Homo sapiens: one gene and its partners. The protein of the gene in region 4 interacts with the protein of the main gene of each other region in a pairwise test. Each region holds a gene or a part of one and is shown on either strand. Other genes may lie near its edges. The genes, in order: NCOA5, CHTOP, RBM10, KHDRBS2, BMP7, FOXD4L3 and HNRNPR.

Region 1 (4,005 bases), on a different chromosome or scaffold from region 4:
GTATTCAAAATCCCAGTTTTTTACCTTAAAAAAAAAGACAGGTTTAACATTGTATTCAAAATAGCGAGCACTAACATTTTAATCATTGTCCTGATCATACTTTATCTCTTAAGATATACCAATAGGGCAGACATAAATTGCAAAGAGTAGGTGAGACGGGCAAGTAATTAATCTGGAAGGGGCAAATCATTTAACTGAGGGTGAACACTGGGTACCTCCTTTGGGTGCATGCTTCCAGTCAAAGCCTTGAGATAACTCCAAATGTATCAATAGTTGACAACAACAAACTGCCTTTATTTGGCAGCCCTAATCATTTTGTATGCCCCCAGCCACAGGGGGTGCATCATTCACAGGGGAAAAAAAACACTACCTATGGCAAATATTTCCTAAAGTTATACCTCTACATTTTTAGCGCTTTCTACGTTTAATAAGAATATTGGTATAAGCATACTGGCAAGACCTTTATAACACCTTGTTTTGCTGGACTTAACGTAGGTATCTTTGGGAGTTTTACAGGATTATCACCTCTTCAGATGTTTCAGTAAACCACAGTTCTGCTGGCTTTGCTCTCTATTCAATAATATGACTCCCTGATGACTCCAGCTGTCAGTGTGTAATTCTGACAATATTGGCCCAGCCAAGCACAGAACTCTGCATGAGGAATCTCTGCTCTGGATCACATTTCAGCCTGAATTCTTATCATCTAACTCTTGAGGGCCACTTCATTGAACTCCTGTGAGTACCTTGCATAGTTACCATGCAAGTTGTCAAGCATCGATACTAAGCATTAGTCCTTCTTCAAAGACAGGATCATGATTCCAGTTGTGCCTTAGATATCTCAGTTACCATCTTCAGCTCAACACCTTGACAGTCCAGATCTTGTAGCATATCTTTATGCAGATGTGGCCTCTAGGTACAAGAAGTAAGACTGTACTTCTGAATGACTTAAAGAAGAACAAATAGAATTAACTTGTCTGCATCCAACGCTCTGCAGAGGATTTTTCCCCATATATTTGTGAAAGATGTTAAACCTGGTATCTCTTTGGTGAAAGTCATTGGGTATCGGCTCATCAGAAATAACCTGGCTGTAGACAAGTTTCTTATATGACCTGAAATGCTTTCTGCTTATCCACAGGGCCCTAATGCTTTTGATTATTGCTTGCTCCCTGGTTGTGAGACAGCCCTTGCTCTAGGTGGGCCACAAAGAAATTCCAGGTTGTGATTACCTCTGCAGTAACACTTGAAGAAGTCATCAGTTCTCAGCAGCTGCCACCTCTACCAATAAGAAAGTTCTGTTTGTGCTGGAGAAGGTTGTCAGTGCTTCCTAAGGAAAAGCATGGACATGTGTAAAATTTGGGTCTGTGAGGTGTGATATCTCATTGCACGTCCATATCCTACCTCCACCTAATGGCAATATTCTGGACAAGTCTGTTGTCTCCATTTCTAACAGTAGCATGAAGCCCTCCTGGTGGAGGATCAACATCATACAGCAGCCAGCCATTTAGATGATGATATTTGTGGACAGTATATCTGTGACAGAAGTTTGAAGAGCTAATGAAGGATTTTTCAGGGTCAGAAAGAGGCTGGCCCTCCCAAGGAAGACATTCCGGTGAACAGAAAGGAAGAAAGGAGATGCTGACCTTTGCAGAAAAGAAAGAAAAAGACAGGGGTCTTCCTCCCTGACCGTCTGTAGAACCAAAGCCAAAGAAAACCATCTTGGATGTGAAGTTTCAGTCTCTTGCCAAAGAGAAATTCAAAGTCCATCACAGTTTTCCAAGATGATCATCTATCAGTTCTTACTCTGTAGGCTGTCACATGCCTGGTGCTCTGCACACCCCTTTAGTCCTCAGGAAGAGACACATTCTACCAGAAGCTCATCACTTGCCACCAGAGCCATTGTTTTCCCCTTCACCCCTTTCGCCCTTACGTCTCAAATGTTTCCCAGCAGTGTGACTATATTCCCCTCAAGGCAAAGAGTATTTGCCTTTTTCCCCCTCCTGAATAGATGAGGAATTTACAGCAGAATTTTAGTTGTGTTTGCCACCTGCCTTCAGTTTGTGGACTCCAGTGCTGAAATTTAACCACTGTTCAGTTTCTTTTTATCCTCTAGTGATGTAGTACCTGAGGGTATGCTGCATTTGGTTCCTTTAGTAAAACACCTCTGGTGCTGTGGGATGATATTGTTAACCTTATTATGCTCCAGAAACCTGATTCTAACCCACTTATCATCTGAGGTCCAGCGTCTCCCACAGGAAGCTTTGTCTTCTTGCACTTTGATTCGTGCATACTACTGCCCTTTTGTTAGCTGTAGTCTTGTTTTGAAAAATATGTTGGGGCCAGCAGCAGGAGCCCTTTTGTTCTGAGGAGTTCTTTGTTTGGGTCCTAAAGCAACCCTAAAGGGTTTTTTGTTTTGTTTTCGTCTCCAGAAGAACAGCAGTCTACCATAGTGTTTATCTTTTGGAGAAAGGAAAAAAGGCTTTGCCTTTCCTTTTGAGAAAATTATTATCTTCTTTGTCCCTACTTCCACCATGCCTTTGGTTCTTTTTCCTTTTGTGAATATCACCTCTTCTACATTTTTACCCTGAAGGCACTTGAGAGGGAATTAGTAGTTTTGTTGCACATGGACTTCAAATTATTTGAGGGAAAGGGTGGGGCTTGCCCTCTCAGACTGGAAGATTGAACCCAGACTTTGCGAATCTAGAGTTTTAGTCAACTTGCAGGGATGGACTTTGACAGGTAAGTAAGGTTTTTCAGTGGATTCAAAAGAATGAGGACCAATCATAACATAACACTTATAATACTCCGAAGGTGGTAAATAACATGCTATGACATGCCCCACCCCGATTTCCACCAGCCCAAGGCTTTGTGTGTGGTCTGTGGTCTGTCAGGATCATGATATCTCAGCCCTGATTGCCAAGAACACTTGAAATTGGATTCCACCTCTAATGACTACTTCTAACTGCTCCCCAAGGCAGGTTTATCTGCCGATCATTAATCCAAAAATACTTTGCAGTTGTCCTTTCTCTTTGGATCTTGAGTGTTTGCCCACATTACATGCTACATCAGATGTTACATGTTAGGAAGATTATATGATGTAATAAGGAAGGTTGAAGTAAGAATCTTGGTTAGTCTTTACTTTATTCTAATAAGAAAAATAATGCTTAGCTATTCTCATTTAAAGTCCCTGGTCTATGATATGTTTGCTCTCACAAGTCAGGAATGCTGGTGAACCTTAGAATATATAACAAATATTTTTCATGGAAGCAAAATTGGCATTTAAATTGTTTTTGCTGTGCCCGTGTAGCTGAGGTGAGGTTTTCCACAAGCTGATGACATCATGATGAATACCTAACGTGTGTAACCATGGTAGACGACAAAAGTATGAGCAAAACATGCTGCCTGCTCTTGAGAGGCTTACAGTTTAGTAGAATAATTCAATTCATTAAACATTTACTGAACTCCTATGGTGTATCCTAGAGCTACAAAGCCTTCAAGAGAACTTCTTATTTGGTAGGGAAGCCACGTAAACAATTACAGAACAGTGTGGTAAGTGCGGTTATAGAAGTTTGTACTGGAGCAAGATTCATTCAACATACATATAGAGCATCTGTCGTATAACAGACATTGTTCTACATAGTGGGTTTGTAGTGCAGAATCAAAGTGACATAGTTCTTGTCCTTGTGGCACTTGTAGTCTAGTAGGGCAGACAGACATTAAGTAAATATGTAATGTCAATTTGTGATAAATGACAAAAGTGAAAACAGTGCTATGAGAGAATTTTAGGGGCAGAAAGTAAACTTTGATTGAATCTAACAATCAGGGAGTAGGGGATATTTATATGCTGAGACCTGGAAGAGGAGTATAGATCTCTTCCTGCTACTCACGTAAAGGGATCAGGAAAGACGTTGGCTAGGCAGAGCTGAAAGGCCGGTGTGGCAAAGAGTGGTGAACTAGGGAGAGGGTGTGACAGGGTTAGAGAAGACAGGAGCCAAGATTATACAGGAC
Region 2 (4,511 bases), on a different chromosome or scaffold from region 4:
ATCAACGAACATTTACTTAAGTGGTACTATGTGTAAACACTGTAGGAACTGAGGCTCCAGCATTAAGCAAAATAACCACGATCCTTACCCTCACATGGGTAAGGATGCTGGGCCATTACTTACACACAGACACACACAAACACATACACACACGCACACGCCCAAGTGCCAGGAAGGAAAATGAAAGGGTCTTGACGTGCCAGTGGAGCAGAGGAAGGGTTGCAGATGTGTCATTCTCTCATTCCTCAAACATATGTACACTGTATTGTGCACATAGTCATTAGAAAAATCCCTTATTGAGGCCGGGCACAGTGGCTCACGACTGTAGTCCCAGCACTTTGGGAGACAGAGGCGGGCAGATCACTTGAGGTCAGGAGTTGGAGACCAGCCTGGTGAAACCCCATCTCTACTAAAAATACAAAAATTAGCGGGGCATGGTGGTACGCGCCTGTAATTCCAGCTACTCAGGAGGCTGAGGCAGGAGAATCGCTTGAACCTGGGAGGCGGAGGTTGCAGTGAGCCGAGATGGTACCACTGCACTCCAGTCTGGGTGACACAGCGAGACTCCATCTGCAAAAAGAAAAAAAAAAGAAAGAGAGAAAAATCCCTTATTGAGCAGGAAACATAGCTTATGCCCATAATCCTAGGAGTCGGGAGGCTGAGGTGAGAGGATCACCTGAGCCCAGTAGGTCAAGGCTGCAGTGATCCGTGATTCATTGCGCCACTGACTCCAGCCTGGACAACAGAGCCAGACCCCGTCTCAAAATAACAACAACAAATCAGAGAGAGAAAAGAGAAATCCCTATGTAGGTCTGCAACAAAATAAACACGGATGGCAGGTGTGGGGGGAGGACATGGAAACGCAATCGAGGACGCAAAGGTGCCCCACCCCAAGAAGGAGTAAACAGTATCTAGGCCAAGTTGGGGAGGGGAGGAAGTGAGGAGGAAAACATGGACGGGCGGTGGTGTTGGCCGGTGCAGGATGGGAGAGGAATTTGCTCCTAATACTGGCCTCCTGGGCCTTGGCTGGAGCATTTACGGCACTTCACAACTCTCAGACTGGGCGAGTGGCCATGAGGGGAAAACCAGTGCAAATTCCCCAGGCCCAATTGTCCGGAAGAAGACGAGGCAAGTCCGCGTAAAGATTTTTAGACGGTGTACCTTGGCTAGGGAACGGAGGGGCGAGGGAATTCGGGACCCAAATCCCCTCTAAGGCCCACATTAATAACTACCCCCAAGAGGTTGCAGCGCAACCACTACTGGAACGTGAAGTCCCCGGCACGCCCCAACAACAGGACCATTGGCCACGCCCCTAGGGGCGGGGCACTGCATGGAAAGCCCCGCCTTCGCCCTAAGGCTCCGCCTCTGACCTCTGCGCAGGCGTAGCTCAAATCTTTCCCGCCCTCTAGTCGTGCGCGGATCTGACGCCTGACGTAATTGCGTAGACGCCATTTTAGCCGGTCAGACAAGCACTGGACGTGGCGGCCATTTTGTTTTGGACACCGAGCAGGAGCTGGCGGCCGCTGCAGACGAAAGGCAGGAAAGGGCAGGCCGGGTGAGCAGACGGATCGGCCGACTAGACAGCCAACCAGCAACAACGAACTGAGCTCGCATACTACCGCTTACGCATCTAACCAACCGCCCATCTAGCTAACCCGAGCCCCTCCACCGTCAACTCAGGTTCGGCCGGTCCCCGGCCCGCCTGCCGGAGCCGTGGTGGCAGCCCCGGGAGGAGCACTGGCGTCTGTTTCCTTCGGTGAGTTTCGGTAGTGAGAAGGAGCCGGGGGAGGTGCGGTCTTGAGGAGCGGAAGGGGCCGGCGGACGCGGAAAGGGGGTGGTGGCATGTGGACATAGCTACGGTGTTGGAGCGTGGAGGCCCCGGGGAGGAGGCGGAGCCCCTGCGAAGGGGCGGGGGAGGGGCTGAACTGGAACCTGGTGGCGGGATTGATGGAGGTTGGGGTTTGATAGGATAAAAAGGAAACTTGGCGGGTAGAGCAGAAGTGGAAGTCTTGACAGGGCTTTGAGGATGGTAGGGAGATTAAGAAGTACAAGACTTTGAGGAATGTTGGAAATTAATGGCGGCTTTAGGGTTAAGTTTTGTGGAGGGCTCTTTGCGAGCTAATTCCCAGGTGAATTTAGAAAACCTTTCCTACTCCCCCAGATCGTCAGTTTCTTGTTAAAGTCCCTACTTGATTCTGGAGTTGAAAGCCACTTTTGAAACTAGGCATGCATATATATATGTATATATATACATACATATATATATATATTTTTTTTTGGGGGGGGACGGAGTTTCGCTCTTGTTGCCCAGGCTGGAGTGCAATGGCACGATCTCAGCTCACTACAACTTCCGCCTCCCGGGTTCAAGCGATTCTCCTGCCTCAGCCTCCGGAGTAGCTGGGATTACAGCCATGCGCCACCACGCCCGGCTAATTTTGTATTTTTAGTAGAGACATTTCTCCATGATGGTCAAGCTGGTCTCGAACTCCCAACCTCAGGTGATCCGCCCGCCTCGGCCTCCCAAAGTGCTGGGAAAACAGGCGTGAGCCACCGCGCCCGGCCCTGCCTGTATTTTCACTGTAGATCAGTGGTTCTCAACTTTAGCTGCACATTAGAAGCACCTAGGTAGCTTTCCCCCGACCCCACAATTGGTTCATTTCCAAACCTCATTACCAGAGATTGTGGTTTAATTGATCTAGGCCCAGATGTCTGTATTTTCTATTTTTTTAATTAATTTATATTTTTATAGAAACGGGGTCTTACCATGTTGCCCAGGCTGGTCTCGAGCTCCAGGGCTCAAGCATTCCTCCCGCCTTGGCCTCCCAAAGTGCTGAGATTACAGGCGTGAAGCACCGCGCCCGCCCTGTCCGGCCCTATGTTTTAAAAGCTCCTTGGATAAGTCATATGTAGTCAAGGTTGAAAATGACTGCTCTAGAGTAAAAGCCAAACTCGGCCCGGTGCGGTGGCTCACGCCTGTAATCCCAGCACTTTGGGAGGCCCAGGTGGGTGGATCAGGTGAGGTCAGGAGTTCAAGACCACCCTGGCCAACGTGGAGAAACCCCGTCTCTACTAAAAATAAAAAAAAATTAGCCGGGCATGGTGGCACGTGCCTGTAGTCCCAGCTACTCAGGAGGCTGAGGCAGGAGAATGGCTTGAACGGGGAGGCAGAGGTTGCAGTGAACTGAGATCACGCCTCTGCACTCCAGCCTGGGCGACAGAGCCAGACTCTGTCTCAAAAAAAAAAAAAAGCCAGACTCCATACTTTGATTGCTAGATTGGCTTCTGCCGTTTTTGAGAAATTCCCGGGTATTTTGTGGGCCTTGAAGTTTGTTTGTTTGTTTGGGGTTATTTGTTTGTTTTAAAGAGATGGGGTCTCAGGCCAGAGTGCAGTGGCATGATCACGGCTCTTTGCAGCCTCCAACCCCTGGGCTCTAGCGATTCTCCCACCTCAGCTCCCCTGAGTAGCTAGGACAACAGGTGCTGGCCACCATGCACCGCTAATTTTTTTTTTTTTTTTTCTTAGTAGAGACTGGGTCTCGCTTTGTTACCCAGGCTGGTCTCTAACTCCTGGCTTCAAACCATCCTGTGCCCTTGCCCTCCCAAAGTGTTAGGGTTACAGGCGGTGAACCACCATACCCAGCCACCTTGAAGTTATAATAATCTGAGGTAATTGCCATAGAAACTTAAGAACTTTTGCTGGGCGTTGGGTCCCAGTGATCCCAACACTGGGAGGCCAAGGTGGGAAAATCCTTTGAGGCCAGGAGATTACGGCTGCAGTGGCCACTGCATTCCAGCCTGAGTGACAGAGCGAGACCCTGTCTCAAAAAAAAAAAAAAAAGAAATTTAAGCACTTGAAATGTGCCCTCGTGTGCTCTTTAGTCATCAGTGATAAGGCCTTTTTATTTATTTTTGGCTTGGGCCTTGCCACTTATAGAAATGATGTCACTATTGTGATTTGCTCATTTTACGTATTGTTCTTTGTAGATTCTCGGGATTCGAAGATGGCTGCACAGTCAGCGCCGAAAGTTGTGCTAAAAAGCACCACCAAGATGTCTCTAAATGAGCGGTGAGGCAGCCAACAGCAACTTCAACTCCTTCCTAAGAAAACATTACTTAACTTGGCCCTGGGGTCCAATGCACAAAGCCAATTTTAAGCTAAATACCAACAGAAGGCTACAGACCTCTGTTCTTAGTTGCATCTCATGTGGTACACAAAACAAATTGGGCGGTTGTTTCAAAACCCCTTATCAGTAGACTTTTATGTTAAGCTGTCTGAAGTATTTATTTGGTGGGATGTATTTTAAAAGACTCCTAACACTCTTCCTTTTCACATTTTTTTACGTTGATACTGGGGTCGTGCAGCACGGTAGCATGGTACCCTGGCTACAGTAGGCTTGCTGCCCAGTCCAAGGCCAGCAGTGTTGTGTCTGGCCTGTAAGAGGCAGGTAGCAAGCCATGAATATGTCCAAAGGCCCTTGAATGTCATTCTTGGGCCTTGTAAGAGGCACTCG
Region 3 (4,005 bases), on a different chromosome or scaffold from region 4:
GCTTTATAAAAAGAGAAAATAATTTTTAAAATGTTTTACGAAGTGTTTCTTCTACCACCACTCCTTTTAAAAATGTAGAATTGTAATATTTTGTTTTCTGAAAAGTGAGCCCAAATTTGAGATAAGGTCATCACCTAGTGTTATTCAGTCTTGGCTTTCATTAGAAATGTTTTTTGAAAGACATTTGATTTTGGACGGTATTCACTAGAAGTGCTCTGTGGCCATTTCTGAATTTGAGTAGCTGACATACATACTTTGTTCAAACTTTATTACCAAGTAAAACCATTGACTTTTAAAAGCCCTCAAGTGCAGAGGTTTGAGTTCATCATACTTTCCAGTTCAAGGTAGGTTTCTGTCATAGGTCAGCAAAAGGCTTCCTCTTGTCATGTTTATTTTTTCATTTTTATTCCCAATTCCCACCTCTGTGGGCAGCTGCTCTGTCGTGTTTGATATGTATCCTTCTATGATACATATCATAGAAAATGTATCCTTCTATGATACATATCATAGAAAATGTATCCTTCTATGATACATATCATAGAAAATGTATCCTTCTATGATACATATCATAGAAAATGTATCCTTCTATGATACATATCATAGAAAATGTATCCTTCTATGATACATATCATAGAAAATGTATCCTTCTATGATACATATCATAGAAAATGTATCCTTCTATGATACATATCATAGAAAATGTATCCTTCTATGATACATATCATAGAAAATGTATCCTTCTATGATACATATCATAGAAAATGTATCCTTCTATGATACATATCATAGAAAATGTATCCTTCTATGATACATATCATAGAAAATGTATCATAGATTTATCATATAGATCATTTTCATATAAATGTATCATATAGATACATGTATCATATAAATACATACATAAATGTATCATATAGATACATTTTCATAGAAAATGAAAATATGAAGTGTTGTTTTGAGTGACTGTGTTTTCAGTTGACACACATGGCATGGTGCCACAGTCTTCGTTTTGTTTCCTGAACTTTGTATTACTCAGAGTGGGAGGTTTTTTTTGTTTTTTGTTTTTTGTTTTGAGACAGGGTGTCTCTATGTTGCCCAGGCTGGTCTCAAACTCCTGGGCTCAGGCAATTCTCCTCCCTTGGCCTCCCAAAGTGCTGGGATTAAAGGCATGAGCCGCTGTAACTGGCCAACAGTGCTGTTTTTTTTTGTTTGTTTGTTTTGTTTTGTTTTGTTTCTTTGTTTTGAGAAAGAGTTTCACTCTTGTTGCCCAGGCTGGAGTGCAATGGCGCAGTCTTGGCTGACCACAACCTCTGCCTCCCGGTTTCAAGCGATTCTCCTGCCTTAGCCTCCCACATAGCTGGGATTTCAGGCATGTGCCACCACGCCTGGCTAATTTTGTATTTTTAGTAGAGATGGGGTTTCTCCATGCTGGTCAGGCTGGTCTCGAACTCTCGACTTCAGGTGATCCTCCCATCTTGGCCTCCCAAAGTGCTGGGATTATGGGCATGAGCCACCACACCCGGCACAGTGCTGTATTTTTAACATCTGTCTGTATTGCCATGTATATGTTACTACTTTGTTTCTAATTGCTGGCAAGGGCATCATGGGGCATGTCTACTGAGTTTTACTTAATACTTCCCCCAAGAGTAGATGCCTGTTGTTAATTTTGATGTGCTAGCATCATTTTTTTTTTTTTTTTTTTTGAGACGGAGTTTCGCTCTTGTTGCCCAGGCTGGAGTACAATGGCGCGATCTCGGCTCACCACAACCTCCACCTCCCAGGTTCAAGCAATTCTCCTGCCTCAGCCTCCCAAGTAGCTGGGATTACAGGCATGCGCCACCACGCCCAGCTAATTTTTTGTATTTTTAGTAGAGATGGGGTTTCTCCATGTTGGTCAGGCTGGTCTCGAACTCCTGACCTCAGGTGATCCGCCTGCCTCGGCCTCCCAAAGTGTTGGGATTACAGGCGTGAGCCACCGTGCCCAGCCCAACGTCACCTTTTTTGCTTTATCTGTTAATGTATAGTGTTTTTTGTTTGTTTGTTTGTTTGTTTTGAGATGAGTCTCGCTCTGTCACCCATGCTGGAGTGCAGTGGCACGATCTCGGCTCACTGCAAACTTCGCCTCCCGGGTTCACACCATTCTCCTGCCTCAGCCTCCCGAGTAGCTGGTGCTACAGGCGCCCGCCACCACACCTGGCTAATTTTTTGTATTTTTAGTAGAGATGGGGTTTCACTGTGTTAGCCAGGATGGTCTCGATCTCCTGACCTGGTGATCCACCCGCCTTGGCCTCCCAAAATGCTAGGATTACAGGTGTGAGCCACTGCGCCCAGCCTAATGTAGTTTTTACCTTTTGCATTCAGATCTTTAATCCATCTAGATTCCACTCTTGAATATGGCATACGGTAGGCTCCGGTTTTATTTTCTTCCATATAGTAGGCAGTTTTTCCAGTACCACCTCCTAAATAGTCCATTCTTTCTTTATTGATCTGTGGTACCTCATCTGATTTCAGGTTCCCTCATGTACATGGATCCGTCTTGAGTGATGTGATTTGTTCCATTGGTCTATTTGCACATTCTTGTGCCAGCACCTTACTGTTTTTATTATTATGGCTTTATAGAATGTCTTAGTAGCTCCTTTGCACTTATTTTTCAAAGCTGGTTTAATCATTTATGGGGCTTTATTATATATCAAAAGTTATCAAAGTCCCTCAAAAACAACAAGAATTTTGATCGATGTTACACTGAACTTCTCTATTAATTTGGGGAAAATTATCTTTGTAAGTAGTCATTTCATCTAAGACCTTTGTAGAGAATATTTTGAAATTTATGTAAAGAGCATAAAAAGCTTTCATTTTCATAAATGGAAATACAGGTCTTATGTATTCTTTGTTAAAGTAATCCCTAGGTACTTCAGTCACTTTCATTATCTTTTTTTTTTTTTCTCGAGACTTGGTCTTGCTCTGTCACCCAGGCTGGAGTGCAGTGGCGACCTCCACAGGCTCAAGTGATCTTCCTACCTCAGCCTTCCAAGTAGCTAGGACTACAGGCACGCACCACCACGCCCAGCTAATTTTTTGTAGAGACGGAGTTTCACCATGTTGTCCAGGCTGATCTTGAACTCCTGAGCTCCAGCAATCCACCCACCTTGGCCTCCCAAAGTTCTGGGATTACAGGCCATTATCTTATTTTTTAAAAAATATTTTTCATGCTGGTATTTGCTGGGGTAGAGGAAAGCTGTTGATTTCTGTAAGTTACCCCTGCTGTATGCCCTTATTATTTCTAATACTTCATTGTTGATTCTGATGTTCTTTCTAAGTAGTTGGTCATATTGTATGCAAATCTATCCTGTCACTTATTTATTTTTCTTCATTTATAGTATTGTCCAGGACTTTTAGTACCATATTAAATAGTATAAGTGATACTGGGTACACAAATTAAGATTTACTTTGGCTGGTTGTGGCAGAAAGTCCAAAGGATAATGGCTTAGACAAGATAGTTTACTTTTCTTTCCCATAAAGGCAGTCTGCAGAAGAGCAATTAATCTAGGGCTGACAGGCAGCCCCTTCTGTGTAGCCATCCTCAGCACATGGCAGTTGAGACAGTAGGAAGAAGGGAGAGGAATAAAAGGGAATGTGTCTAAAGTTTCTCCATTAAGTATGGTGCATGCAGTAAGTTTTTAGAATGTATCCTTTAATAAATCAAGAAAATTATCTAATCTTCGTTTGCTAAGATTGACCATAAATAAGTATTGAACTTCAAAATCCTGTGCTTTTTTTCTCCCTTTGTCCATTAATTTCATAAATTGTGGCCTGGCATGGTGGATCACAGCACCTTGGGAGGCCAAGGTGGTTGGATCGCTTGAGGCCAGGAGTTCAAGACCAGCCTGGCCAACATGGTGAAACCTCATTTCTACTAAAAATAAAAAAATCAGCCAGGCGTGGTGAAGCATGTCTGTAATCCCAGCTACTGGGGAGACTGAGACATGAGAATCGCTTGAACCTGGG
Region 4 (4,005 bases):
GTTCAACTGAATGATGAAAGTTAGACCTCCCTTCCCTGTGCTTTCCCCAGCATTTTCTTAAAACATCAATTAAAATTGTGTCATAACCTATGAAATTTCAGGTTCATTTTTTCCTGTGTCTTTTATGGGCCCCTTAAACTGTCCTTATATGCAGGACATAGTATAGTAACTGGCATATAGGAGATCTTCAATAAATAAAAAATGTGTTTAGTGATGCTTTATTATTCATATAATAAATATAAATTTATCTAATATTTCTTATAATATATGATACTTTAAAGCCTGAATTGGAAGCCAAAAAAGGGTGGCAATTGGATCAAGTCACTTAACTTCTGTTTCTCATATCCTGATTTGCTATTTTCAGATTCACAATTATGTAACCCATTCCATAATTTCAATTTGGCGTATAGTTATTTGGTACCTTTTTTGAGGAGGAATTTGTTATTGGATTAATTCATAGCCTAGCCAGTGCTTCTCATGTGACAATGATCCTGATATTGAGAGAATCTTACTTATTTTATCATTTCCCTAAAGGATAAAGAAATTTCTAAATTTCACTGGATGCAATGAGTTTTTAAATGACATCTTAGACCACACCATGGGACTAGAAAAAAACAGGACTCTAAAATTCGTAGGAAGGCTTTAAATATTTAGAATCTGCTTGTCTACTGAGAGACCCAAGAGGACAGATAAATTCTAAGTTCATTCGTGGGTCTTTACAACTTCAAATTTCAGAGAAACTCCCATCATGAGGAACCCAGTCATGATTTGTCTCTCCCTATGTTTGGGCCTCTTCCATGCTCAAGGTTCCATGGGACTCAGGTTAGAATCCCTTCTATATGTGGTACTTGCAGTGAAGAAATCCAGAGGCCTAAATATCGCTGGTGAGCAATGAGGGGCTTGGCCAACCATATAAAGTTCAATGACACACTCTATGGTGGCACTGGAAAAACGTTCATTGGTTCAGTACTCTCCAATCTCAATCCAAAGAACATATTTTCACTAAGAAAAACTGACGTGCATTATCATGTGGCAATTGTAAATGTGTAACTATACATAAACATTCTGATATTAGGAAAGATAAAGATGGACACAAATAAAAATAATACTTTTCCTGATCTCTCTTTGCTATTGTTACCAAGAACATGTAAACAATGGAAGCAAGGTCTGAATTAAGTGAAATAAGTCCTTAATTTCCTCTGCTAATGGTATGGAATCTTGGAAAATTAGAAACTTACTTTTGCTTGGATAGGAAATCACTTTGGCTGGCGATTTACTTTTCCACGTACAAGTATCATGAACTAACAATAATTTCCATTTTCCTAGCCTTGAGCAAGGAGAAAGAGCATAGTATTAATTCACATAGAAGCAGAGCGTTATAAAAGAGCACATATTTGTGCCATGAAATATGATACTTTTGTACTTTTTAATAATGAGATCGCACTACGATTACTTCATTGAATTCAATAGTGAAATATTTTTGATACTTAGATAACCCTTTTGAGTAAGAAGTCTGATCTTTAACTCTATAACAAATATATAAGATTTCTAATTAAAGAGTTTTTTAAATAAATGTTAAATTTCTTTAGCTCAACTGTTTCTGTTTTTTGAATTATCACTGGAACTTTCTGCATAGTTCCCTTGTTCATTCATCCATCCTTTCTTTCATGTAACCTTTCACTACATTCAGCCCTAACTAGGCATTGAATTTCTCCCAGGCACTTGGGAAACAACAGTGAATAGCAACAGTCCCTATTCTAATGTTGGCTAACATTTAGGAAATGAAGAGTTTTAGCTCATCAATTAACTGCCCTAGAGATTTAGAAAAAGTCAACTGAAGCCAAGTTGATGAGTAGTTATTAAACACTTATGTCCTCTGTAGCAAGTCCCTAGGTTTATGTCAATTTAAAATTCTGAAAAAATCTGGGAGTGTATGTGACAAGTATTCTGTCACTCCGCTCATGATTGTTTAGCTGTTTTTCAGGAACATTCAGAATCTAAAAAAGGACCTGGGACTTCTATTTCCTGGGAAAACTTGAAGCCTCTATTGTCTCAGCTCTTAAATCCTGTAGAGTGAAACCCAGGGATTTCTAACACTCTGGAATAATTGGAGCAAAAAGTAGTACATTCTTTTTGTTAAAAACCATGATAAATTGGGATACATTTTACCATCAGAGGACAAAAACAATGATATAGCCTGGATTATCTCATAAACGTGGTGTAAATATTCATTTTACATAAGGCTAAGAAGGTACTTTCAAGCTTGCACACACTGAATGTGTTTTCCCTTTGAGTACACCAAAAACAGTTTTATTTAGTTCCAATCAAGCAAATACATGGAATTCTTTTCATTTTTATGTTGATAAAGTCAAATGGTTTGGGGATAAATTCCTGCCCTCAAAAGATTACATCAGAAAGACCAACATCTGCATTTTCCCACCAAAAACAACATGGTCTAGAGCACAGATCTGTAAACTTTTTCTGTAAAAGCCCAGAGTATAAATATTTTAGGCTTTTCAAGCAGTATAATCTCTATCACAGTTACTGAACTTTTCCTTTGTATCGTGAAAGCAGCAATAGACAATATGTAAATAAACAGCATGCCTGTGTTCCAGTAAAACTATTTATAAAACAATCAGCTGGCCAAATTTGGTTCACAGGCCAGAGTATGCCAACCTCTGATCCAAGTAAACCTGTATTTTGAGCAATGGGAACATTTGTTATATTTATTTCTTTCTTACTCCTATTTTATATCCTATAAAAGACTAAACAGTGAAAGAGATATAATTTTTTATTTATTATCAGGTATCAGTTGTAATAATAATGCCCTGGTGAGAATATTCTCAAAAAACTAATATTTGTCCACTTAAGTGCCATTTTTCCCAACAATGATAAACTTTTGATCATTTTTCTACATAGTAGATTGTTTTCATTTGCTCTATATTATAATGAGTACAATTGAAATTTTTTATGCTTTTCTAGTAGTCTTTCTCAACTAATTCTTATGATCGGAGGAACTATCTGGGGGCAAATGCCCTACATTAGTTGCCCTCAATCTGCAATTGTTTCCCAGTTAATATTTCCATTTTTTTATATATCAATTATCAATATCTATGCGTCTCTAGTAACCTTCTTTCCTTTGTCTGCACCTCCTTTTACACACCCATGCATGAAATCTGCTCTTGATGAGGAACTAAATTCTGATTGAGAGACCAAAATAACCTAGTTGCTGGAATCACATAAAATGTCACCATAAAGCCAACATTGAGTTATTTTAAAGAAGAATTGCATTTCTTTTCTGGGGACACAGATTTTACAATAGCTATTTTCCACAGTACTCAAAAGCTTGGTTACTTGTTTCTTGCTTTTTTGGAATAATAGATTTCTACTACCCTCAATGTTTTGGAACCTAGCCAAAATTAGCAGGTAAATGGAGTTTTCCTGGTGTACTAATACTTCTTTATTTACTGAGTTGTTTACTTGGAAAAACTGATATCTTTGTGTTTTGTTTTGTTTACTGATTTTGCTGCTTAAGGTTTTTTCTACTCTATATTCTGCTTGTCTCTCACTTTCTCTATACAATTTAACACAATGGATCTCAACCCTGGACCATATAACTATCATCTGGGGAGTATTTGAAAAATACCAAACCGTAGGTCCCAGCCCATAGAGTTTTCTAATCAGTAGATTTGGGGGACAGAGAGCAGGTGTTAGTTATCTTTTATTTTGATTGTTTAATATTTCCAGGTGATTCTCAAGTTATTCAAGGGCTAAGGACTACTGGTTTCCTATATCCAATTTATTTATTTATTTTTAAGAATTCTATGTAAAAAGATTTTATGGGCAGGGGTTTACATTGATACTCCTCTTTCTATTTTGTGGCATTTAAATCTAACACATAATAAATACACAGTACACATTTATATACACACACTTTTTTGATGGTCTCACGATGTGGAAAAAATAGGCTTTAGCGTTCGGTGTTGAGATCTTTTGTTTTCTTTT
Region 5 (4,005 bases), on a different chromosome or scaffold from region 4:
GAACAACTTGAGGCCAAGAGTTTGAGATCAGCCTGGACAACACAGTGAGACCTCATCTCTACAAAAGTAAAAAACTAGCCAGACATAGTGGTGTGTTCCTATGGTCCTAGCTACTTGAGAGGCTCAGGTGGGACGATTGCTCCAACCCAGGAGGTCGAGGCTGCAGTGAGCTGTGATCACTCCACTGCACTCCAGCAGAGCAACAGAGCAAGACCCTATCTCTCAAAAAAAAAAAAAAAAAAAAAAAGAGGGGTGGGCAGGGATAAGGGTGTCTCCATGGGGGGTTGTTGTGGGAAGCAGTAAAGAGCCCCCATTGCATGCAATTAGCTTTTGTCATCATGACTGTTCCCAAAGGCAGCCATCCCTTCTCCCAGCATAGACAAGTGTCATGGGAGAGAGGAGGCTCCAAGATCGCATTGTGGACCCAGCTAAATCGATGGAAACGTAAAGAGAGCAGACCTTTCCCACAGGTGGTCTACAAGAGGGGCAGGACTGACCACCTCGTGGGGACACCCGCTCGGCTTCACTGAACGTGATATAACACCTACGGGGAATCAGGGAAAATGTGGGCAACCTGCTGAGCCCCCGCCCGCCGCAAACACTCAGCAAACGGAATCTGTTGCCATCGATTCCCAGCCACCACCCGTATGCTCCCTGTGAAGCCAGGCTCGGGATGAATTATGGGAAGAAATAACAGGGACAGAGATAAAAAAAAGCCACCAAGGCCCACCAGATGGCCTCAGGCCACAGGACAGGAAGCCAACGGGCATTTGGCCCCCAGATGCTGAGTAGGGGATACTGGCTGTGTCTCTGGCATTAACTGGATTGAACACAGTGGTTTGCCATCTCTGCCCAGCTGGGTGGCTTTTTCCAGAGGGATCCTTGCAGATCCATGAGAGGACCCCAAGCGGAACCAAAGGCATTAAGGGCCTGCCACTCCCTCTCAGGCAGCTTCAGTCTCGGTTCTGGAGTGAGGCCCAGAGAAAGGGACTGCGAGGAAAAATGCCAAGGCTCCTTGATGAGGGCTGCTCTCCTCTGACCTTCCAGGACATCCTGGAAGTTCCCAGCAGCCAAAAGGAATCCTCCTTGCCCTCTGAAAAGGCTACTCAGGAAGCTGACCTGGCACATCCTGAGAAGGCAGCTCAAAACCAGAACTCATGCCCTGGGGCTGAGGTGTAGTGGCAAGGGGTAGAAGCCAGGAGACGAGGAAACAGGCATGTAGCCTTCAGGAGCAGCAAGAAACTCCAGAGGCTTCTGGAAGCTTCCAGAAGCTTCCAGAAGCCTCTGGAGCCAGAGTCCAAAGGGATCTTCACCCTTAGCCAGTCCCTTTCCTGTGCCATTGAGACTGACAATTGTGGTCTGGACTACACTTTGGGCTCAGTCTCATGGGAAGAAGAACAGTCTTCTCTGAGACACCAAGCTGAAGGGAACATGGAATGTGTCACAGAAGGCCAATACATGGTGAAACCCCATCTCTACTAAAAATAAAAAAATCAGCCAGGCATGGTGGTACATACTTGTAATCCCAGCTACTTGGGAGGCTGAGGCAGGAGAATCACTTGAACTTGAGAGGTGGAGGTTGCAGTGAGCTGGGATCGTGCCACTGCACTCCAGCCTGGGCAACACAGTGAGACTCCATCTCAAAAAAAAAAAAAAAAGGAATCTCTTTCCTTCCTCTTGGGCATGTAAGACAGCTCATGGGTGAGAAATTAGAGAGATCTTAGCCACCTGTTCACACCCCAGCACACAGGGAATCACCTGGGAGCTTTTAAAGCACACCAATGACAGTTCAACCCCTACGGATCAGGAGTTTTAAAAGCCTCTGTGATTCTATTGCACAGCCAAGGCTGAAAACCAGCTCAGGACTCATCAATGGACCCATCTGAGCCCCAGGTGAGGGAATCAGCACTATGGGAATCACTGAGGCACGGCCATGGCTAAGATGGTGACTGCTGAAATCTAAGAGCCTGGGTTTGAGCCCCACCTCTGCCACTTTGTAGCTGTGTGCTTTTGGGCAAGTTACTTCCCACCTCTGAGCCAGGCTCCGCACCTGTAAAATGGGGATGATACATCTTCATAGGAACCTTTCCAAGGCATGAAACAAAGCTGAAGTGTCCAGCACAGTCATAAACAGTAAGCACCACGCAACAAGAAGCCTCAACCACAGGGTGGAGACATGCTCTGGAACGTGACCATGGCTCTCTGCCCAAACACGCTCATGGGGGCTAACGGCAGGGCAAAACCCGCCCAGAGTCTTGCTACCAAGTCATGAATCCGCACATCATAAGTTGCCACCACCCCAGCATCCCCAGGAGAGGACTGGGCAAGGAGCCCTTGGCCCACTGCCCGAGGGCCGCCCTGTGAGGGGGCTGCATCGTTCCTCCTACCACATCCAGCCCCACCTACCTTCTCAGGTTTATGGACCAAAATCATCACGGCGTCCCCAGGGAGCTTCTCAGAAAGGCAGAAACTCAGGGCCCCCATCCCAGGGCTAGTCGAGGGCAAGAGCCTCTGCCTGGGCTGAAGGGACCCAGGAAACTGAGCCCAGGCCTCCTCTGCCAATCCATCCTGTGTGGTGGGGACAGGCAGGGGGCAGCTCCCTCTTCCTCAGAGTGACTCAGGCTGCAGCTGATCCAAATCTTGGCCCTCGAGACCACGCTGAGGTCACCCTCCTGGCAGCCAAAATCACTGAGATGAACCCAGGGACATTTTCATCCAGCTGCCAACATCATCTCGACCTTGGTGGCGGCCGACTCCCTTGGAGCAGATTCTGCTGCCCTGGCTGGCCTTGGCCTCCCAGGGAGGTTCTCAGAGGCCAGCTCCCAAAGCAGAAGTGTGTCGCCTACATGTGGGGCAGCGCTGTGGAGTGGGGCAAGCCTGACACATGCTCAAGGAGAGACGGGGAAGACTGGGATGGAAGATGCCAGGTCCCAGCTCCACAGCAGAAACAGGGCAAACAGCACAACCCCTACCCCAAATATCCTCACCTTCACCTGGAACCAAAGTCTGCACCAATGGAGACAGGAGCAAGTCCAGCTCCTGGAAGCCAGGCCCCAGCTGGCCTGGCCTCAGGCCTGGGGTTCAGAAAATGAGGATAAGACTCCGATCCTTTCGCAGCCCCCTCTCACCCCAGCAAGGCCTCTGGAGCCAAGGCCACTGTCCCCAGACCTGCCTCTGAGCCCCCACTCGCTCCACAGCCCGCCAAGGGCGGCTCCAACATGTCTTTCCAGCTGTCTGGGGCCGCGCTTTAAGCAGAGCCGCAGGGCTATGGAAGGCCTCCAGCTCGGCTCATTATCGGAATTTAATCTGGATTCCGAGAGATCAAGAGGAGTCAGTGGAAAGTGACTCCCACAAGGGGAGAGACGCTGAGGCTGACCCAAAGCCGGCTAATCCTCGGCACCCCCGGGGCTTTCCTGGAGCTCAGGCACAGCTCGTCAGATGTCCCAGCCCTGCACAGCTGGGCAGCTGGCGGCACAGAGACAGAGGCAGCCACATGGCGGGGACAGCAGGGCAGGCTCTGGGCTCCCCCGGGCTGAGGTCTGCAGGAGGCCTTCAGCTGGAAGAAGCTGTGCGGGCCCAGGTTGGGGACATGCAACCAGGTTGGGGACATGCAAAGAAAAAGCCTATCTCTGAACAGGCGAGCTGGAGGAAGCGTGGGGGATTTGAAGAGCATTTGCAAGCTCAGGGCTTTGTTCCTACTGGAAGATTGCAGAATTAGGGGAATTGGCTCGGTGGACCTACATGGGAAGGCAGTGCCACAGCCACCACCCAGGGCTCTTGTCTTCCTAAAGAGGTCTTGCTCCACTTCCTGCTGTGATGATGATGATACTAACGCAGGTGACCATTTATTGAGCACTTCCTGTGTGTAAGACACTGTTGTAAGTATGTCACCCCCTTTCATCCACAGCACAACTCTGGGAGGGAGATTCAATTATTATCCCCATTTTACAGAGGGAAAAACTGAGGCTCTGAGAGATGACTCTTTCCCAAGGCCACATGGGTAGC
Region 6 (4,602 bases), on a different chromosome or scaffold from region 4:
TGAACAGTTGTGCTGTCATATTGCCCCTCCCCAGTGCAGATAGTGAATGAGGACCCACTGATTTAAAGGCAACACTGCAGCCCCTTCTTGCCTCATTGAAGTCCCAAGTTTTATTACAGTAAAAGCACTTAATGTTGACATTTCTGAAAGAATGAAGAGGCTGGGCATGGCGGCTCACGCCGGTAATCCCAGCACTTTGGGAGGCTGAGGCAAGCGGATCATGAGGTCAGGACATCGAGACCATCCTGGCTAACACGGTGAAACCCCGTCTCTACTAAAAATACAAAAAATTAGCCAGGCGTGGTGGCGAGCGCCTGTAGTCCCATCTACTTGGGAGGCTGAGGCAGGAGAATGGCGTGAACCCAGGAGGCGGAGCTTGCAGTGAGCTGAGATCGCCCCACTGCACTCCAGCCTGGGCGACAGAGCGACTCCGTCTCAAAAAAAAAAAAAAAAAAAAAAAAAAAAAAAAGAATGAAGAGCCAGAGCCAGGCATAGTGGCACGCCTGTAGTCCCACCTACTCAGGAGGCTGAGGCGGGAGGATCACTTGAGCCCAGGAATTCAAAGCCAGCCTGCGCAACATAGACCCTGTCTCTAAAAATGAATTGGTTATAAAGGATGAAGAAAGGAAGGAGGAAAGGGAGAGAGAGAAGCCCTTATAGAGTGGGTGCATTTCTTGTATGTGGGGCCACTTTGTAAGAACAGGATTTTTCAAACTGGGCCCATACTGGTATGTGTGAAATCAATTTAGTTGGTTATGGCCATTTTTTTTTAAAAGGAAATATCAGTGATCACTATAGTGTAAGTATATTGTTTCGTGAAACCCATCTTAGTTATGTATTATGTCTGTATGTGTGAGATTGTGATATAAAATGTATTTCTGTGGTTAAATATTCAAAGAAATTGGAGAACCATTGCTACAAGGGGACAGAGGACTCCGTGTGAGCTCTCCTGCCTTCCCTGAGTAAACTTACACAATTTAGTGCTGGGACATTTGAGCCTTTTCTGAAAATTTGAGTCAGGGAGAGCATCTTGAGGAGGTGGGAAGGAAGGTAGAAGGAGCAAAGCAACACCCCCCTGAAGCCTGGGAATATTGTCAGAACCTTAAATATAATTCAGCTCACCATTCTGGGTAAGGACAGACTCTACCAATGAAAATGGGTGATTACCAGCTGTGAAACACAAAAACATACTTTTACGGTTACACATTCCTTTACAAACAACCGTGTACATTTCAGCCTCCTGCCCCACCATTTCTTTTCTCCAGGCGGGAAGGCTGCATGTTGAGGTGGTCATAGAATGTTGAGTATCATACTTTCCTACCTCGCTTTTATTTGCGCGGGTTTAAATGCGCCTTAACAGAACCCGTGCAAAGGCTTGCCAACTGTCTGGCTGCACCGGATGAGTAGAGCATCTTCCTTGGTGGCAGGTGGGTGCGAGGAGGAGGGGGCTGGGCTTTTCTCCGGACGGGTGTTTGCCCAGAAGACCATCATCCCTGGACTACGTTAGGAGGAAGTGGCACCGCTCCGAGGTAGGGGAAGAAGGGTTATAAAGGGGGGAGTCCACCACACATGGTCTTGAAGAAGCTTTTATAAAAGGCAAAGGCATCTTTGCCGGACGTTGTTGCAAAGGAGTAGAAACAAGCAGACGAAAACATCCCAAAGGGTAACCACTAGCGTTCCTGCTTCTTGCAACATTCATCCCAGGCTTCCAGCTCAGCCCGCCCCAGGCCAGGTGATCGGCCGCCACATCCCCTGCGACTGAAGCACCTGCTCCTCCATGAACCTGCCAAGAGCTGAGCGCCTTCGCTCCACACCGCAGCGCAGCCTCCGGGACTCCGATGGGGAAGACGGTAAAATCGATGTCCTGGGAGAGGAGGAAGATGAAGACGAGGTGGAAGACGAGGAGGAGGCGGCGAGCCAGCAGTTCCTAGAGCAGTCGCTCCAGCCGGGGCTGCAGGTGGCCCGGTGGGGCGGGGTTGCGCTTCCCCGAGAGCACATCGAGGGCGGCGGCGGCCCGAGCGACCCCTCAGAGTTTGGCACCAAGTTCAGGGCACCGCCAAGGTCTGCGGCGGCCTCTGAAGATGCCCGGCAGCCGGCAAAGCCCCCCTACTCGTACATCGCGCTCATCACCATGGCCATCCTGCAAAACCCGCACAAGCGCCTCACGCTCAGCGGCATCTGCGCCTTCATTAGTGGCCGCTTCCCCTACTACCGCCGCAAGTTCCCCGCCTGGCAGAACAGCATCCGCCACAACCTCTCGCTGAACGACTGCTTCGTTAAGATCCCCCGCGAGCCGGGCCACCCAGGCAAGGGCAACTACTGGAGCCTGGACCCCGCCTCCCAAGACATGTTCGACAATGGCAGCTTTCTCCGGCGTAGGAAGCGTTTCAAGCGCCACCAACTGACCCCGGGAGCCCACCTGCCCCACCCCTTCCCTCTACCTGCTGCACACGCCGCCCTGCACAACCCCCGCCCAGGCCCTCTGCTTGGGGCCCCTGCCCCGCCGCAGCCAGTCCCGGGGGCCTACCCCAACACCGCCCCCGGGAGACGCCCTTACGCTCTGCTGCACCCGCATCCTCTTCGCTACCTACTGCTCTCGGCCCCCGTCTATGCCGGGGCACCGAAGAAAGCAGAAGGCGCGGCCCTGGCGACCCCGGCACCCTTCCCGTGCTGCAGCCCTCACTTGGTCCTCAGCCTTGGGAGGAGGGCAAGGGTCTGGCGTCGCCACCGGGAGGCGGATGCATCTCTTTCAGCATTGAGAGTATTATGCAAGGGGTCAGGGGAGCGGGTACAGGGGCTGCGCAGAATTTGTCCCCGACCGCGTGGAGCTACTGCCACCTGCTCCAGCGACCATCAAGCCTGTTGCATCCCCAGACCGCTGCCCCTTTGCTGCAAGTGTCCGCCGCCGCCGCTGCTCGGACAATTTTGCAGCAATAGCAGCAGCATCAGGAGGAGGACTGCGCCAACGGCTGCGCTCCCACCAAGGGCGCGGTGCTGGGCGGGCACCTGTCGGCCTCGTCGGCCCTGCTGAGGTATCAGGCAGTGGCAGAGGGCTCTAGGCTGACATCGCTGGCTGCCCCTTTGGGCGGAGAGGGGACCTCACCAGTTTTTTTAGTATCGCCCACGCCCAGTTCCCTGGCCAACTCCGCAGGGCCCTCCTAGAGCCAGGTGGGAGTGGGGAGCGACCCGCAGCTGCTCACTCCACCTTGCGCGGCCCATACTGGGCGTGTGCATCTGAATCCCGCTGGAGAGCAAACACGAACTTCTGTTCGCTGCAAAATGGTTAGAAAGAAACAGCTGGATTACGTTCCTCTAAAAACCACCTGAACGTAACCTTCGCAGGGCGTCAAGTCATCTTTTCTTGCCTTCGGTTGTGGCTTCTATGGCTGTCCCGATTTGCGCATTTCCTGGGGTACTATGAACGTGAGTGGGGTATTTTGTTCTGGCATTAAAAGAAAAACAAGCAAGCAAACAAAAACACAGCCTCCGATGCCAAACATGTTCCCCCTTCTTCACTTCCTTGGAGCTGGAAGTATTATTCCTAAGTCTAGTGCAAAATGCTTCTACTCTCTGTGTCTTCCTGATAGGGATGTTTAATGTAAGTAGGATATTAATTTCAGAACATTGATTTCTTATCTGTGTGTCTGACGTGCCATCTTTAATGTTAAAATTAAGGTGTTAAAATTAAGCCTAGTTATATAGACGAAATAAAATGCTAAGTCACTACACTACATCGTTTATTTTCTATTACATCTCATTCTTCCCTTTCTAAATGGAACTTTTTAAAACCTACGTTATTTTCCCTCAAACAATTTATTTTCACAATTCATATTTATTATAGATAGCAGAAGTAATCCATTTTAATATGGCCTTTAAAAATTCCAAATATTTGAGGTTGAAAATGTCCTGGCTTTTAAAATAGGAAATTTACTATTTATGAGACTTCTAAAAGAAAAGAATAGGAGGGCATGTAAATATATTCTCCATTTATTTTTCATCACCCCTCAACAAGCTGGAAAACCATTTGAGATAAATTTGGAATGTAGTGGCCAACATGTACTCAGAGAAAATAAAAGGCTATAAATTATATATATATATATATATATATATTTTAAGCACTAGAATTTTCAAAACTTATTTCTTAAAAAAAAAAACAACTCTGAAAAGACTTTGCAACTAGAAAGGTTTAAGTGTTACTCGGCGTCAGGGGACGGAGTGGGGGGAAACCAGACAAGAACGCCCATCATGAATTGCTCCCCACAAAGAAAACAAATTTCTAGGAACTTGGCCGTTTTCCCCTGTCCTGAGTGGGGTTCCCGATTCCGTGCCGCTTTGAGGGAAGCTGCTCCGTGAATGTGAGAAAGTTTTTCCCCCAGCCCCCATCTACTCCCCACCCCCAGCTATGAATTTCTTATTTCAGGAGGGAGGACAAACATGGAGACACACATTTTTACAGGAGTCTAATTGGCCGATTTTTCTCCGGCTTCTCTTCTCCATCCCGTCTCTTGGAATTTCTTGGCACGCCCTACCTGAGATCCCCTACGGGAGATTTCCTCTTGGCTCCTGCGGTTCTGAGGACGTTCTGAAAAGTTCCCAAGCCCC
Region 7 (4,005 bases), on a different chromosome or scaffold from region 4:
AAAGGATTTTGTAGTGATTTTGATCTTTTCACCAGGACAGAACAGCTGCTTTTGTTAATCAGCAATTCTACCTTCAGTAAATTAAAGCCTTTATCTTACCCGGTGTACATGAAGTTCCTTAAAGATCTAATGCTTCCATGTACATTTTCTATGGTTTTACAGGATTATTATTGCCAATTTAGGTCAGATACATCACAGGAGGAATAAATTATTATTTTGATAGAGGTTATTAGCAGCATGTATACAAATTAGTTTAGATAAATCATGCATTGTCCTACAAACTAGTTATTTCTGGCTTAATGTAATATAGCTCCTGAATTTTTTCCAGCAGCATAATAAAATGGCTAATCAGGTGAATGGTAATGCGGTACAGTTAAAAGAAGAGGAAGAACCAATGGATACTTCCAGTGTAACTCACACAGAACACTACAAGACACTGATAGAGGCAGGCCTCCCACAGAAGGTGGCAGAAAGACTTGATGAAATATTTCAGACAGGTATAATATGCATTTCTTGTTTCTGACTGGTTATGAAAGTGAGGGCAAACCACTTTGAATTTTATAGTTTTTTAAGGTTAAATAATACTTATTGTTTCTGATCTGTAGAGCTGAATGTTTGTTACTTTCCCTTCATTGAAGGCATATTGGGTTTGACTTTGATACTCTTATTTCATTATTTTGAAGCCTTCTTAGTGTTGAATATGCAGTCTTAGTTGTTTCAGAACAGCACATCGATTTGTCTTAGATTTACCACCCATAAAAATGTATGTTTCTGCATACCAAATTTTACATTTTTTTCTTAATCAAAATCAGTCATCATTTTGCTTTTGCTTTTCTACTTTTACCTTCTTAAAGTGATTGTTAAATCAGCTTAGGTCTGATTAGGTGGCATAACAAGAGGATAGCTGTATCGTCTGAAACCATAATAAATGTCAGACTCCTTGAGAGTTTGTGGCTTGTCTAGTTTCTAATAGAAATCCACATCTCTCCGTAATTTGGAAGTGTTTGGTTGTAACAGCTGCTTCTTTTTTTTTTTTTTAATCCAGAAGTGCCATGGTTAAGTGCTTAAGCAAATTTGAACATCTTAATATAGTTGGTTGTAAGTGGTTTGAAGTTTTAAAGAGGGAGAGAAATATTTACCCTTAGGGAGCGTTGTTCATAAATGAATGTGTCCTCCTCCTTTGGGGACATAGATGGAAACTTTCTTCCTCTGTGTTGTGTGTGCCTATTCAGATTCTGAGAGAGAATTGAATTGTCTCACTCACAAATGTGTCTTAAGTACAGTAGTAGCAAATAGCTGTTTTTTTTTTTTTGTCCTTAAAAAATTTTTAAATCTGGGAAGCTTAGCATAATTTTAGACATTAAAATGACTTATAAAAATGACTCCTGGGTCATGGTCGCATTTGAAAATCAGTCCTCAGGAACTTTCTGTGACATTCTGCCATAGAGAATTGGCAGTGATCTGCTTAGAGATGCTCTCTTGTAGAGTGTTTTGTTATTGATAAGAGGCTGATGGTTTGGGCGTAGACTTGGTTTGACAAAATGGATTGATGGGTGTCCTGAGTTGTGGCTTCGGGTGGTGGTATGGAATATTCAAGTGAGGCAGCTCCAGTTATTTACACATGCTCATTTCGAGCTTTTGAAACAAATCATGGCAACTTTTTTAAAAAGTAACTTTGGAAGTGGCATTACATTTATTTAAAATTTACTATATGGAATAAAGTTCTTTTTAGCTTTATCAAAATGGAGTCACTTTTCATGTTCATATGAACTTGGGGGTTTTAATCTACGAAATACTTGCATTTTACGTTGGATCAATTCTGAAATATATTCCATATGTAAATATGACACAAACTTAACAGACTTAAGAAATTATATTTTAAACTTAGTAGATGTTCTGTGTGCAGTTGAATATACTTACATATATGAAATGCAGTGTATATATTTTCTGTCAAGTTTACTTGTAAGACCATAAAGTCTTTATTGCCATTTGAAAATGATTGTCGTTCTTGACAGTCAATGTGAATGCCACAGCATCTTTTAAATCTCAGCTTGTCACTTCAGAAGAACAAAGAATGCCTTAAAGTATGACTTTCAGAATTGATTAATCAAGCTGCACTTGCATTTGTAGAAGTTTAAAATTATGCCTTTCCACATTCTGACTGCAGCAAAGTGGATGCTCAGATAAACAAATGCATTTCAGTTTATCTTTGGTGTTCAGGAGGGAAAGCCTTTTGACACTTTTTGGAGAGTGGAAAGAATTACTTAGTAAAATTTGTTTTCAGATTTTCCTCCACCTCTTAGGTGGTTAGCATCAACTGTAACCGTCTGTAATTTGAAGGTTTATCCTTGGAAAACGCAATGTATTCTTATCACTCTAATATAAACCAAAATTTGTTGTATTAATGCATAATCTGTAATACAGTATGTACATCAGATTTAACTTTCAAGACTTATACCTTTGGGGGAGTGGGAAATGGATGTTAGGATTTGGCGGGGGAGGTTTGTGGATATGGAGATTGAAATTCATGTTTTTGGTTGTTGACATTTTATCTTTATTTTCATATTTGTCCTGGACCTTTCTATGTAGTATTTGGATAGCTGCGTATATGCATATAGTTAAATGAAAATACAGTTTGTTAGTGATCATATTGAATGTAACAATTCTTGATTAAACGTCAGTAGAGCTTAGATTACCCCTTTTGTTGCAATAACGTTACCCCTTTCAATTTAATTTTTAGGATTGGTAGCTTATGTCGATCTTGATGAAAGAGCAATTGATGCTCTCAGGGAATTTAATGAAGAAGGAGCTCTGTCTGTACTACAGCAGTTCAAGGAAAGTGACTTATCACATGTTCAGGTAAGGTCGTTACTCAGAAATGTCTTTGAACAATTAGTAATCTGAAATTATTTTACTATTACTTTTTTTCCTATGGAGAAGTGGTATTTTTTGTTTGTGACTACCTCTTCTTTTAAAAAATTAGTTTAAAGGAAAAAAACTGCTTGTGGCAGAGTTTCAGAAGCCCAAGTATAAAGCAAAAGTTTTCTCCCACCCCCTTGTGCAGTAAGTTATTTTAAAAACTTAAAATTAAAGCCAAGTTTTGATGGTTGTTACTATAGGTTTTTACATGTTACTCAGCTTTTTAACATTTGGGGGTTATTTGATCCTGTTTTATTATCTTGGAGGAAAATGTAGGTGGGAGGAATAGTTTCCGACATCTGGCAAAGACAGTCTAGATACAGTCACATATCAACAAGTGGAAGACTGTGTTTTCCCAGGGTAGAAGGTAAGCTCCCTGAGGTCTATACTGCCTTACTGCTGTCTGCTCCAATCTCTGGCACATAGTAACCACTCGGCAAATACTTGTTGAATGAATCAGTAAATCTTTTGTTAAAATCCTGGTTTTCTGAAATTTAAATTTAATTATGTATCTGACCCTTCAGATATTTTTGGTGATTCTTTTTATTGAATTACTTGTCTGTTCTAGAACAAAAGTGCATTTTTATGTGGAGTTATGAAGACCTACAGGCAGAGAGAGAAACAGGGGAGCAAGGTGCAAGAGTCCACAAAGGGACCTGATGAAGCGAAGATCAAGGTAAAACTTGACTTGGGTAGTTGTAATGAAATTGCATTTAATGATGAGGTCAAATGCCTCTTTCCATGTTTCCTAGAAAGTTTCACTTTTTTTTTTTTTGAGACGGAGTCTTGCTCTGTCGCCCAGGCTGGAGTAGCGGCGCAGTCTTGGATCACTGCAAGCTCCACCTCCCAAGTTCATGCCATTCTCCTGCCTCAGCCTCCCAAGTAGCTGGGATTACAGCCATGCACCACCACACCCAGCTAATTATTTGTATTTTTAGGAAAGATAGGGTTTCACTGTGTTGGCCAGATTGGTCTCGATCTCCTGACCTTGTGATCCGCCCACCTCGGCCTTCAAAGTGCTGGGATTACAGACGTGAGCCACCACGCCCAGCTGAAAGTTTCACTTTTCAAAACTAGTGTTTAGAA

The links.
Region 1: the proteins of KHDRBS2 (region 4) and NCOA5 interact in a two-hybrid assay, tested with the Homo sapiens proteins (2 studies listed by BioGRID).
Region 2: the proteins of KHDRBS2 (region 4) and CHTOP interact in binary tests that used the Homo sapiens proteins (3 or more experiments, as listed by UniProt).
Region 3: the proteins of KHDRBS2 (region 4) and RBM10 interact in binary tests that used the Homo sapiens proteins (3 or more experiments, as listed by UniProt).
Region 5: the proteins of KHDRBS2 (region 4) and BMP7 interact in binary tests that used the Homo sapiens proteins (3 or more experiments, as listed by UniProt).
Region 6: the proteins of KHDRBS2 (region 4) and FOXD4L3 interact in binary tests that used the Homo sapiens proteins (3 or more experiments, as listed by UniProt).
Region 7: the proteins of KHDRBS2 (region 4) and HNRNPR interact in binary tests that used the Homo sapiens proteins (3 or more experiments, as listed by UniProt).

What each region holds. Positions count from the first base shown.
Region 1 is NC_000020.11:46,072,548-46,076,552, reverse strand, and holds part of NCOA5 (nuclear receptor coactivator 5), read left to right. Parts: intron 1-4,005. UniProt on the Homo sapiens protein: Nuclear receptor coregulator that can have both coactivator and corepressor functions.
Region 2 is NC_000001.11:153,632,588-153,637,098, forward strand, and holds the start of CHTOP (chromatin target of PRMT1 protein), read left to right. Parts: upstream 1-1,478; 5' UTR 1,479-1,756; exon of another isoform or gene 1,757-1,774; intron 1,775-3,984; 5' UTR 3,985-4,001; coding exon 4,002-4,066; intron 4,067-4,511. UniProt on the Homo sapiens protein: Plays an important role in the ligand-dependent activation of estrogen receptor target genes. May play a role in the silencing of fetal globin genes.
Region 3 is NC_000023.11:47,148,135-47,152,139, forward strand, and holds part of RBM10 (RNA-binding protein 10), read left to right. Parts: intron 1-4,005. UniProt on the Homo sapiens protein: Binds to ssRNA containing the consensus sequence 5'-AGGUAA-3'. May be involved in post-transcriptional processing, most probably in mRNA splicing. Binds to RNA homopolymers, with a preference for poly(G) and poly(U) and little for poly(A).
Region 4 is NC_000006.12:61,681,145-61,685,149, reverse strand, and holds part of KHDRBS2 (KH domain-containing, RNA-binding, signal transduction-associated protein 2), read left to right. Parts: intron 1-4,005. UniProt on the Homo sapiens protein: RNA-binding protein that plays a role in the regulation of alternative splicing and influences mRNA splice site selection and exon inclusion. Binds both poly(A) and poly(U) homopolymers. Phosphorylation by PTK6 inhibits its RNA-binding ability.
Region 5 is NC_000020.11:57,221,588-57,225,592, forward strand, and holds part of BMP7 (bone morphogenetic protein 7 preproprotein), read right to left. Parts: intron 1-4,005. UniProt on the Homo sapiens protein: Growth factor of the TGF-beta superfamily that plays important role in various biological processes, including embryogenesis, hematopoiesis, neurogenesis and skeletal morphogenesis.
Region 6 is NC_000009.12:68,301,175-68,305,776, forward strand, and holds FOXD4L3 (forkhead box protein D4-like 3), read left to right. Parts: upstream 1-1,692; 5' UTR 1,693-1,777; coding exon 1,778-3,031; 3' UTR 3,032-3,910; downstream 3,911-4,602.
Region 7 is NC_000001.11:23,337,344-23,341,348, reverse strand, and holds part of HNRNPR (heterogeneous nuclear ribonucleoprotein R), read left to right. Parts: intron 1-328; coding exon of another isoform or gene 329-340; coding exon 341-497; intron 498-2,740; coding exon 2,741-2,859; intron 2,860-3,487; coding exon 3,488-3,595; intron 3,596-4,005. UniProt on the Homo sapiens protein: Component of ribonucleosomes, which are complexes of at least 20 other different heterogeneous nuclear ribonucleoproteins (hnRNP). hnRNP play an important role in processing of precursor mRNA in the nucleus.